Regions from separate parts of the Homo sapiens genome. Here region 1 is linked to region 2. Evidence: fine-mapped expression QTL. A gene starts in region 2. The other region holds a variant in brackets. All regions are shown on one strand. Distances are from middle to middle. Region 1 overlaps NECAB1 (N-terminal EF-hand calcium binding protein 1). Region 2 holds the start of C8orf88 (chromosome 8 open reading frame 88).

Region 1 (5,388 bases), 160 kb before region 2:
TTAAGATTTACAAACCTGATTACCTAAAAAAAAAGTCTGTCATTAAACATACCTTAAATACCCATTTTCTGTGTGTACTCAATAAATATTTTTCAAGGAATAGTAGAAAATGGAAATTAAAAACACATAAATGATCTTCACTTAGCAAGAGTGAACTAGTAAATCCATATCTACCATTGTTGAACTCTTACTATGTGCTAGGTGCTGTGTTAATTGTTTTCTATATAGCCTTTCTCTTAATCCTCTCAATAGCCAGGCATTTACGAAATCTGAAACTTAAAGGAATTAGTTGGTACTTCCAACATTCTTTCTGGACCCTTTTCTTCCTTGTTGTAGGCATTCTCCCTGGGAGAACTCACTCACTTCTAAGTCAATTACTTGGTATTGGTAACTCCCAAGCATACACCTCAAGCCCCCATCGCCCATTGACTTTTCTAGACCCCTGTGATTCTACTACTGTGCACTAGATGCCTCTACTTACTCCACAGGTACCCCCAATCTCAACATATCCAGAAGAACACTCTTGGCTCACTCCATGCTTTTGCTCAGTGTTCTTTCTAGCAATGAATGGTGATACCATCCATCTGTTGCTCAGTTTGGAAAGCAAGTCTTATCCACACTAAGGTTTCCAAAATATGACTGTGGCTCCTGAGCACTCTTGGGGTAAATTAAAATCTCTTTATCACAATTTTGATGGTTTCTCATATTTCCTCTTCATATCTAACTCTGACTCTTCCTTCTATCCTCCAAATATATACCCTTTGGCTAAGTATAGTGATTTTTCTTTTCAGTTTCCAACCCAAGTCTTTTCTTGCCTCCTAGCCTTGTCATTTGCATTCCCTCTGCCTGGAGTACTCTTTCTCTTTAAAGATCTTCCTTCACTAACCCCTATTTTTCATCTGTGTCTCATCACAAGTGCCACTTCTTCTGGGAAACCTTCCCTATCCCTTTATAGCTAGACTTTTTTTTTTCTTTTTTCAAAATGCTCTCACATCGCCCTGTGTCTCGTAGAATCCCCCTTATTATATCGTACCATTTACTGTGTCATAATTATAAGATCCATAAAAGCTTGTCTACCTATGTTCTTAATACAAAACACAGTTTTTTGGCACATACTAGGACCTTGATAAACATTTGATGAAAGAGTGGATAAAGTGCCCTACTAGCAAATGGCAAAACGTGTTAAAAACTAAAGATTTTTTTATCCCAAGACTGTGGTCTAAGCAACTGCACTCTGCTGCCTCCATCTCAAAAAATTATTGGAATTTGGAACATAAGGCCAGGATAATTTTTAAGTAAAGCAGAGGAGGGCCAACTATTTTCAGGATAAACTTGGACAAAGCATGTAATTCCAGTTGAAAAAGCTGAAAAACCTGTACCCTTTGGTGGTAAAAGTTCAAATTTATTACCATAGGAAATCAGACCTCACAAGATTTGGCTATTCTGTGAGCCAAACCAGTATAAATCAAAGGTTAACTCTGTTGTTCCATTTCAAAAGAAAATATCAACAGGAAAGTTGAAGTTTGAATAAAATGTTTCTAATACAAATTTATAATTGCTTTATAAATACAGAATCATACTACAAGGGAATATTTTTCCCTTTCCTTTAAAAAATGTAATACTTTTGTTTAACATTAAGGCTCTAGTCTACAACTCTTCAAAAGTAACTCTTTGCAATTGCTTATTTAAAAGTGTGGCCACCTAAAGTGAAGTCTTTCAGGAATACTGCATGTGGTCACAACAGGTTTTCAAAGCATACTTTCCACCCTTCAAGCCAAGACTATAAGCTAATGCTTCCTTTTTCTTTTTATATATTTTTTTCTAATAAGAGGATTTTTTTCTAAATAAAAGTCTTTTAGCCCCAGAGAATCATCAGAGCCCTTATTAATCGATGCTTTTATTTGATAGAATGCACATTATTATTTGAAATCACTTACTTATCATAATTATAAAGCAGTATTACAGGGGCCCACCCTATCCACAGGGTGCACAGGCAACCCAAGTGCAGTAATAGCCTGTTTCCACTCACCTGAGAAATATTAACCATTCACCAAGGAAAACATATTCCATCATCAATGTATTCGTATTACATTCACTACATATCATAGTGTTGGAGATGGAAATAGCAGGTCGATTTCTGTTTTTTCTTTTTTCTTT[AT/A]TTTTTTTTTTAAACAGTACATGAAAAGGTCTTTCTTTTTCGCTCTTTAACCTCAGTCTGATTTGTGTCCAGTTTTTCAACCTGGCAATACATTTTTCATCAAAGCAAGGAGATACACAGTAGAAATACCACACTATGTCTTGTCTAGCATATCCATCAGGTTACATGGGGCTAAGTTTAAAATAGTCATATGAGGCATAAAACTACCTCATTCAAAAACAGAAACACAAAATTAGGAAATTGATGAGCCTGGGGATTGAACTTCATTTTGCAATGGGTTGTTATGTCACCTGAATCGCTAAGCTGGCTTGGCCCAGGAGGACCCAGAAGATCGGGTCCCTAGATCTGTGCTTGATTCAGATCTGGATTTATTCTACCTCTAAGGCTGTGTCTGCCCAGTTAAACGTTAGCAAAAATTAACTGGAAAATTAGATTATTGTGCCTTTTGTGTTAAAAAGCAAAATGAAATACAATTTAAAACCTTCCAGGACTATTTATACTTATATTTTTTGCAAATAAGGATTTTTTAAAATGTTGTAGTCTGTAAGTCCTTATCTGAAAAAAATAAGTAATTCTATGATTAGGCTTATTTTATCCTTTATAATAAAAATTCAAATTTCTTGTCTACCCACCCCTCCATGCCCTCTGTGAGATTCTAATTCGCTTGTGGGGCCTAGGAATCTGCATTTCAGCAGTGCTCCAGGCAATGTGTGGGCCATATTTTGGGGAAACAAAATGTTCTAGATGAATCTAGAGGAGCTCTTTCTATTAAATCAAACATTCTTCTACTCAAAGACAAATTCCACTTTGTTCAGTATAGAGTTGTTGGTAGAAGTACATTATAGGAGTTTCGTGACCCTGGACAAATTCCATCCTCCTTAAACCTCAGTTTTCTCATTGTAGATGGAAGGGATCTTACTATCTTTTACAGTTATTTGGCAGCTTATCTGAGATAACTGAAAAACTAGCTCCCTGCACAGAGAGAAAGATGCTTCCCTCTCTTTTCTCATCCATTCGTTTCTCTAGGTTTGCTGCTGCTGCATTTTGTACAAATCTTTTGCCTGTTATTAATGTGTTTCTTCCATCTCTGCTGATCTAGATTTTACCTGTTGTCCAAAGTCAGGGGTGAATGCTACTAAAACCCCTCAGGCCCTCAAATGGAAAGAATCTTTTGTTACCCAAAACTCCCATACAGTTAAAATACCTCTGTCTCTTATTGCATTAACCGTATTTTACTGTATAAAATACTTATAATGTCTGTATATATTATCTCTTTTATGATCTCTTTTATTATATGTTATCTCTCTGATTGGGTTTCACCTTTGTGCCCTACAGTAAGTAAAATGTCTTTGGCTTTAAAGGTACTCACTGATTTAAAGGGCATAGGAATGGACATAGTTTGTTAGACTATAATAACAACTCTGATATACATTTATTAAACACATCATATTTATCCTGCAATCTGCTAGGTCCTATATGTGTTTGGTACCATGAAGGTAAAACATCTAAATAATTGACTCTGTGTTGAGCTCTTTATTTGGTTATGTGGACATCTTTCTTGTATGGCCTGTTAAATGGTTCATTAAATGTTAAATGTTTGTCATGTGAATAAATGAACCAAAAAATACCTAGAACCTTGTAGACTTATATTTTATTAGAGTGTACACATCTGTGTTCTATGTTATATAAAGATATATTAAATTATTTTTCTTTTTAACACCTTCAGCTGTTCTTTCTTTTTGAGTACACGTGTGTACATGAACAAGCGTTTGGGTGAAGTTTTATAAAGCAAAAACAGAACAATGTACAAAATTAAAATAATTTGTGTCTCTTTGTTCTTGCCATTTCAGATGATGGAAAATTATCCTTTGAAGAATTCAAAGCATATTTTGCAGATGGTGTTCTCAGTGGAGAAGAATTACACGAGCTTTTCCATACCATTGATACACATAATACTAAGTAAGAAACTTTTTTATCACTGGATTCCACAAGTGAGGCACAGAGAGCGTGAATGCATTCATGTCCAGGAAGAAGAAAGGGAAGAACAATATAGAGGGTATATTTTGCCAAGTTTGCCTATGCTTAATTCTGAGATACCTCTTTAGTAATTAAAATTGCTCTGAAAAATTGACTTTGAATCAGAAAATAATGATCTTTTGTAGAAAGCTCCCCTGAAGTGTTTTTAGATTGTTCCCACTTTGCAGAATGTAAAACAAAGTATAAATTATAAATAAATATAGTTCTGCCATTAATTTAAAAAGTAGAATTTTACCTTGTTATTTAGGCTTAATCTCAATTTGCTTTGTTTAAAAATTATTCTTAGGCCATTCTTACATTAACACAGTGAAAAGGAAGAATTGTAGCAGTTATCTGGACAATTCAGGTGTGCTGAATTCCAAATCACTGTTACCTGAGGACATAATTATCTCTGGAGAGCCAATGTATATGGTGATCCATTCTTTTACTTATTTTGCCTATATAGATCTCTCTTTTGTATTAGCATAACATTTCTGAAGTTTCTATTTATATTCTCACTATGCTTAAAAATATAAAATAATGAGGACTTTAGGGTATAGAGCAATAGAAATATGCTGCTTGTTTTGGGCAATTGAACCAAATCAGATTATTTGTGACAGTCACAGTTACAAAACGCTTATATGAAAAACCACCATTTCAACCATGTCTTCAGACCTATCAGTGTGTCCATTGCTTGAAAAATCATTATATTTCCTTAGGCAAAGTGTTGAGATGGCTCCAGGCAGTGAGCCAAGATGCCAAGAAAATGCTCTTGGGCTACATCTATAAACAGACATTTTTTTGAAGCTAACTATTAAGAAAAATTAAAAGATTAAATTCACTTTACTCAAGCTGTTGAATATTTTTTAAACAACCAATTTAGAAGTTTCTTGACTTCATTGGGGTTTCAAATTCTTCATCAAACAGCTTAAGTATTTTGTTGACAGAAACAGTATTCATGGGTAACTATACTCAACAATAACTCTAGCATATCAAGTCCATAGTAGGTATTGGTGGTACAACATGGAACCAGCTTATGGTTTTATGGAGAAATAGACCAATCAGCTGATCGTATCAATATAATTCATAAATGCTGTAATTGAGCTATGTACAGGACACTTTTGGACCATAAGTCCCAAAAGGGAAGAAATTTTAGCCCAATTTTTTAGGCTCGGGGAATATTTACAGGATCTGAGTCATTATGAGAGATTACA
Region 2 (5,388 bases):
ATTTAGTTGTAGGTTGTTAAGTCTTTTCCAATCGCTGAGCAAGGCAAATCCACAGTATTCAAACTAGGGATTTTCAAGAGTTGGGGATTACAGAACTCCATTATATGACTTTGCAACACAAGTAAATAAACAAAAAATCAAAGCTCTTTTGGTGCCACCTACCCTTCAATTTACAGTAGGAAAGATACAGCAATGGCTCCCTGTATATAAATCCACATCAGTTAAGGAAATTAGAAAAGATGGTGTCATTCAGTACTCTGTTTAATATTTTTTTTTAAAGTAAACGATGCCTGCAGGGAAACACTGACATTATAGGGGACAAGTTTGGGATTACAATGCATAGTACATTCCACCATCATGTTATTAATGAAAAAGGTTAAGTATTTATAAAAAGTAATTATTATTGTAAAACTGAGTCACGAGATTATAATTAAGGCAGAACTCCATAAACCAAAACCTAATTCTCAGTTTAGTTAAAAATAATAAAGACTTAACTGCACTACAAAGTCATTATACAAAACAAATTCAGTCTTAAACTCTAATGCCTGCTTCATCCATGGAATGTAGAGATCAAAAAGTTTCCCTTGAAGCTACTGGTGCTACCTAGAGTAGCCATGTATCATATCAACGATTCAAAGCACAGTTACAAAATAAACAGAATTCTGCCTACAACATTGGGTAGCAAGTAGTGGGCCTATCATAAGGTTGTAAAATGTAAATTTAAAAATGTAAATGTATAGTTTTGTGGTATAAATGTTTTTTAAAGGATATTTTGATCCAATGTCTCCAAAAAAACTTTCTATTAATACATACTGAGAAATGGTTGCTGAATAGTTTTTTTCAAGATCACACACACTTAACAAATCATCTTTAAAGACCAAGTTGTATGAATAGAATATTGGTAAATCAGTTAGTTATTTACAGTTGCTATTCTACACCTGGCAATACTAACTATATCTTAGGTTCCTTTTCTTTTTAAAAAATTTACCTAAGTATGAATCTTCAGGCCTTATCAGTCCTGATATTACCAGTAAACCTAGAATTGTCTAAAATACAATGGGATAATAAGCAGATACATTGACCACTTTGGCCAAAATCTTATTAATCTTATTTTTTAATTAAGATGCCTTTTTAAGGTCCTACTACATACTAAATATAATTTCATTTAATTTTGAGCCATATATGAACGGTGGAAGAAAATTATTATTAGTCCCACTTCACAGATAAGAAACCTGAGGCTCAGAAAAATAAGAGACATGCCCAAGTCCACATAGCTACTAAGTGCTAGATATTAGGATTTGACTACAAAGTTCACACCTTTATATCAAAACTTGCCTATTTGTTACATAAAAGAAAGATATCTGACTGTCCATTTATTACATGTGGACACTGCGTGTATAGATTTAAAAATTAATGTGAAAAGTAACATTTATTTATAAGGCCATGCAGAATAAATTGGTATATGCTAATAATATCCATTTCTTCAATTTACCATTTTTCTTAGAATACTAAATAAATTAGGGAGTACTGTGCTTTCCTCACGCTACAGACATGGTATACTGCCATACTAACCATAGATCACAGCATATGAAATATACTATGCACTGTTTTTAGAAGCTGAGTACTATACTTAAACTCCAATATAAATTCTAGTCTTCTTTGGAAAGTACTGATGCTACCGCTGCCGTTGAGAAATAAGATCATATAAAGTGAAATAATGAAATGAAAAGACCATATTTGAATTTACCTTGTGTATAATTCCCATATGATAACCAGATAAAATTTCATCTCAATTTCCAACTTCAAAACATTACAAAGTTAGGATTCCTTGAAACCCAATACTGCTTGTAAGTAAACTGCTCACACTGACAAAATGATAGATGAAGAGAAACATACAGGAAACATCGGGGAGTAAGAAATAAACCACCTATGACTCAAGTGGTGAAAGACATTTCACGTTCCATATATCTGGTTGCACTATTAAGGAAAAATTAAAACGAAAATATCAAAAAACTAGAAGCTTGGAGAGTTCCAACATATCTTCCATTTCATGCCTTCTCTTTATAACTAATTTAATTTTTTTTTTGGTCTATTTGAGGGATTTCTCAAAACAAAACACAATTTAACATTCGGATGGGCTAAAGCTGTCCAGGTAATAGGTGTCTGTGATTACTTTAGTCATGTAACTGTCCTTTCCGTAGCTTTGACTAAAACACCAGCAATGAAAACCTTGTGCCACCGGGTGGAGGGGGCAAATCGTCTTGAAAGCCTCCCACCGCCTGGCACCAGGTGCTGGGGCAGAGCCAAGGGGAGCTGTGTACTTAGCTCCTTTTTTGGCGATGGCTTTGGTCTCGGCCACTTGCCCCTCCGTCGGGCTCCCCTGGCCCCCTACACTTTCTTTCCCCTCATCCGACGCTCTCGCTCCCATCCCACTCCCATTCAGGGTCCACAGGGTACTGAAGGGGCCCTGAGAGATTTCCCGACCCACCTCAGAGCTTCTCTTCCTCGCCTCAACTTTCCCGGGGTCGGGCCTGGGAGACGGCGCCCACCCGCCTCCTCCACACCACGGGGCCCGACTTCCGTCCCCCAGTGTCGCTCATCCTCCCTAGCCACTTACCGACTCAAAATCCACGGGGATTTCGGGGCAGCAGCGTCGCCGCGCTCAGCCCACACGCGGAGGCCGAGCGCCCTGCTGCCCGTCGGGGAACGGCTCCTGCCGCTGGTCCGCTGGCTGACCGCGGTGGCGGCGGCGGGGGGCGAGGGGCGGGGGGCGAGGGGCGGGGGGCGGGGCGGGAGGCGGCTCCGAGGGGCACGAGGCGGGCCCAGGGCGGGCGCGGGGCGTGGCCTCGGGCGCTGAGCCTCGAGAGCAGCCGCACCCCTGCCGGGGTAGAACCGTTAAAAGGGTGGCGCGCGCTTTCCCGGGCGAGCTGGGCGCGTGGGGTTGGAGCGGCGCCACCCAGAGCCGGTCGTCTAGGGTAGGAGGCCGCGAGTGAGGCGCTGACAGGCTAGCCCTCGACGGGGCGCGCCCGCGTGAACGGCCTTGGGGGCCCCAGACCGTGGCCCTGCTTGTGCGAAGACTGGGAGGCGCCAGGCGGGCCGCCTGCTGGGGGCTTGGCGGCGGGTTCCAGGCAGCGTCTGTGAGGGAGGCCGCCTCTGTGAGGGAGGCCGCCGTCGTGCTGACGACTGAGTCCACCCTACTCCTGTCCCCCGTCAGAGCTGCTGGCAGGCGCTGCTTTCCCCTTGGTGCATTTAGTGGGTGTCGGGATTCGGGTTGGCAGGGAGGAAGATGTTTGAGACCTGGTTTACCTCAGACCAGGGATACAGCGTTTCACACAGACTGCCATCCTGAAAGGAACAAAATGAATTAAGGCAACTCCATCCGAATCATTTCTTTTTAATCTTCACCTTCAATCCTTTTGCTAATTTTTCATTATCTTTGAGTGTCCCCAGAGGGGGACTGTCTGCTTGTACTGAGGGACGTGGAGGTGGCAGTCCCTCACGTCCCCAAGCACCAAAAGGACAGTTGAAAATGCACTGGCAAACACTGAACGGTTTTAAGTGGGGCACTATCAGGATTTACCATTTTGGAAGGTATGAAGTTTCACAAGCACTTCCATGTATAGTCAAGTTATTGGAGCTGTCTCCGTTTAGAAATGGCTTCCAGAAACACTCCTACTATCCACTGAGACAACTCGCCTGGCATCAGAGACCTAGGGTCCAGGGTCAGAGATGGGTCATGATAAAAGGGCATCCCTTGGGGTGAGGCACCAGAAGTCTGCACAGTGGAATCAATATATTCCAACCACCAGATGTAGAAAATCTTAAGTGCAGGATGTGGTTCTCATCCATCTAGTCACAACAGAAGTTTTCTTCTTCAGGAATATACTTAACAATGAAGCATGTATAATTTTATATACATCTTACAATAAAATTATTTTGTGCATATCACTGTATGAAGTCAGTAGAAACTATTGTGACAAAAATGTAAATTGGAAGAATTCCAATTCAGATCAGTATTAGTAATTTATTGAGAGGAAGAGAGAAATTAGACTAGACAGACTCCTTGATTTTTTGATAATTGAGGAAGAAAAATGAACCATATAAACATATCGAAACTTTTCAAAATCTTATTGATAATGACATAAAATTTTGGCATCTACAAGGATAATCTAGAATTCATACCTTTACAACAAGAACTTGACAACAAACAGGTTAATGACTTTTAGCAACTTAAAGGTTAGTCACTGCCTGAGAAAACTTGAAGTGCCCTGAAATCACAGAGTTCACCTAAGAACCTTAAGATGAGTTTCCCCAAATTTAGCAATACTAAAAATTGGCATTATTACCAATAACAAATTGTGAAACTGCAATAACTTTTTTAAGCTTTCAATAACAAAAAATACATGTTGACTAACTTTGCTTTGAAAAGACTACCACATTATTCATTATCACCAGGGAAAGTGCATTACAAAATTACTGTCAAATGATGAGGCAATAAAAAAATGAAAACTAAAAATATAGGAAAAACATAGCAATGGTTCAGGTAGTTAATTTAAAATATCATTTTACTGAATTTCTAAAATATTTGTGGTATTTATCATCTTTTTAAAAATCTGTAATTTGTTGTCACTGATTTTCTTATTCTAAGTAAATATTTACTTTGGTCACCGCCCCCCATCCCTGCTTCCTGCCCTGCTCTGGCCACTCAAAGAATTGGAGAATGGATTGAGAAAAAGCAACAGTGGAAATAGATATCCCAGTTAGAAGGATAATAATTTATAATGTGTCTTACTACTTATAAGTAGAGGTTTTATTTAAACTTATATTTTCATATTTTATTTAACTCCACTTTCACAGTACCTAGAACTACACACACACACATACAAACTGGTTACTTGATCTCATGGTATGTGCTGTTTAGTGAGGGTGCAGATATGCAAACAGACAATTTCAACTCAGTAAATTAATTGTTAAATCTGGGTGGTGCCACTGAAAGCCTGGCAACTCAGAAAGCTGAAGAGGTAGCATTATCTCATGTTTACCAAATGATTTCCTTGCCAACCTCCTGCCAATAGTCGCCTTTTATTCATTTATTCCTCAAACATTTACGAAGCATTTTATGAAGGATACACTAACAAACACACAACACAGATGCTCATAATTATTATAGGAATGTGTTAAAACAGTGGTCCCCAACATTGTTAGCACCAGGGGCTGGTTTCGTGGATGACTGGAAGGGCGGGGTATGGTTTTGGGATGAAACTGTTTCACCTCAGATCATCAGGCATTAGATTCTTATAAGGAGCACACGACCTAGATCCCTCGCATGTGCAGTTTACAATAGGGTTCACACTCCTATGGGCCACTGTTGATCTGACAGGCAGCAGA

What was found. PIP is the estimated chance that this variant, and not a neighbour inherited with it, causes the effect. A credible set is the group of variants that fine-mapping cannot tell apart.
Region 1: its variant is the best candidate, but not a certain one, in a credible set for the expression of C8orf88 in whole blood (INTERVAL, PIP 0.57).

What each region holds. Positions count from the first base shown.
Region 1 is chr8:90,820,709-90,826,096 of GRCh38, forward strand. It overlaps NECAB1 (N-terminal EF-hand calcium binding protein 1), which reads left to right. Exons shown (of 13, transcript NM_022351.5): 3 at 4,009-4,117. All of the region lies in intron 1 of LOC105375635 (a long non-coding RNA gene), which reads right to left. Among named protein-coding and RNA genes, the nearest start is that of NECAB1, 32 kb to the left of the region's middle. The variant AT/A (reference allele first, on the strand shown) is at 2,158.
Region 2 is chr8:90,982,497-90,987,884 of GRCh38, forward strand. It overlaps C8orf88 (chromosome 8 open reading frame 88), which reads right to left and starts at 2,742. Exons shown (of 6, transcript NM_001190972.2): 1 at 2,618-2,742. RefSeq lists a silencer at 2,766-2,925.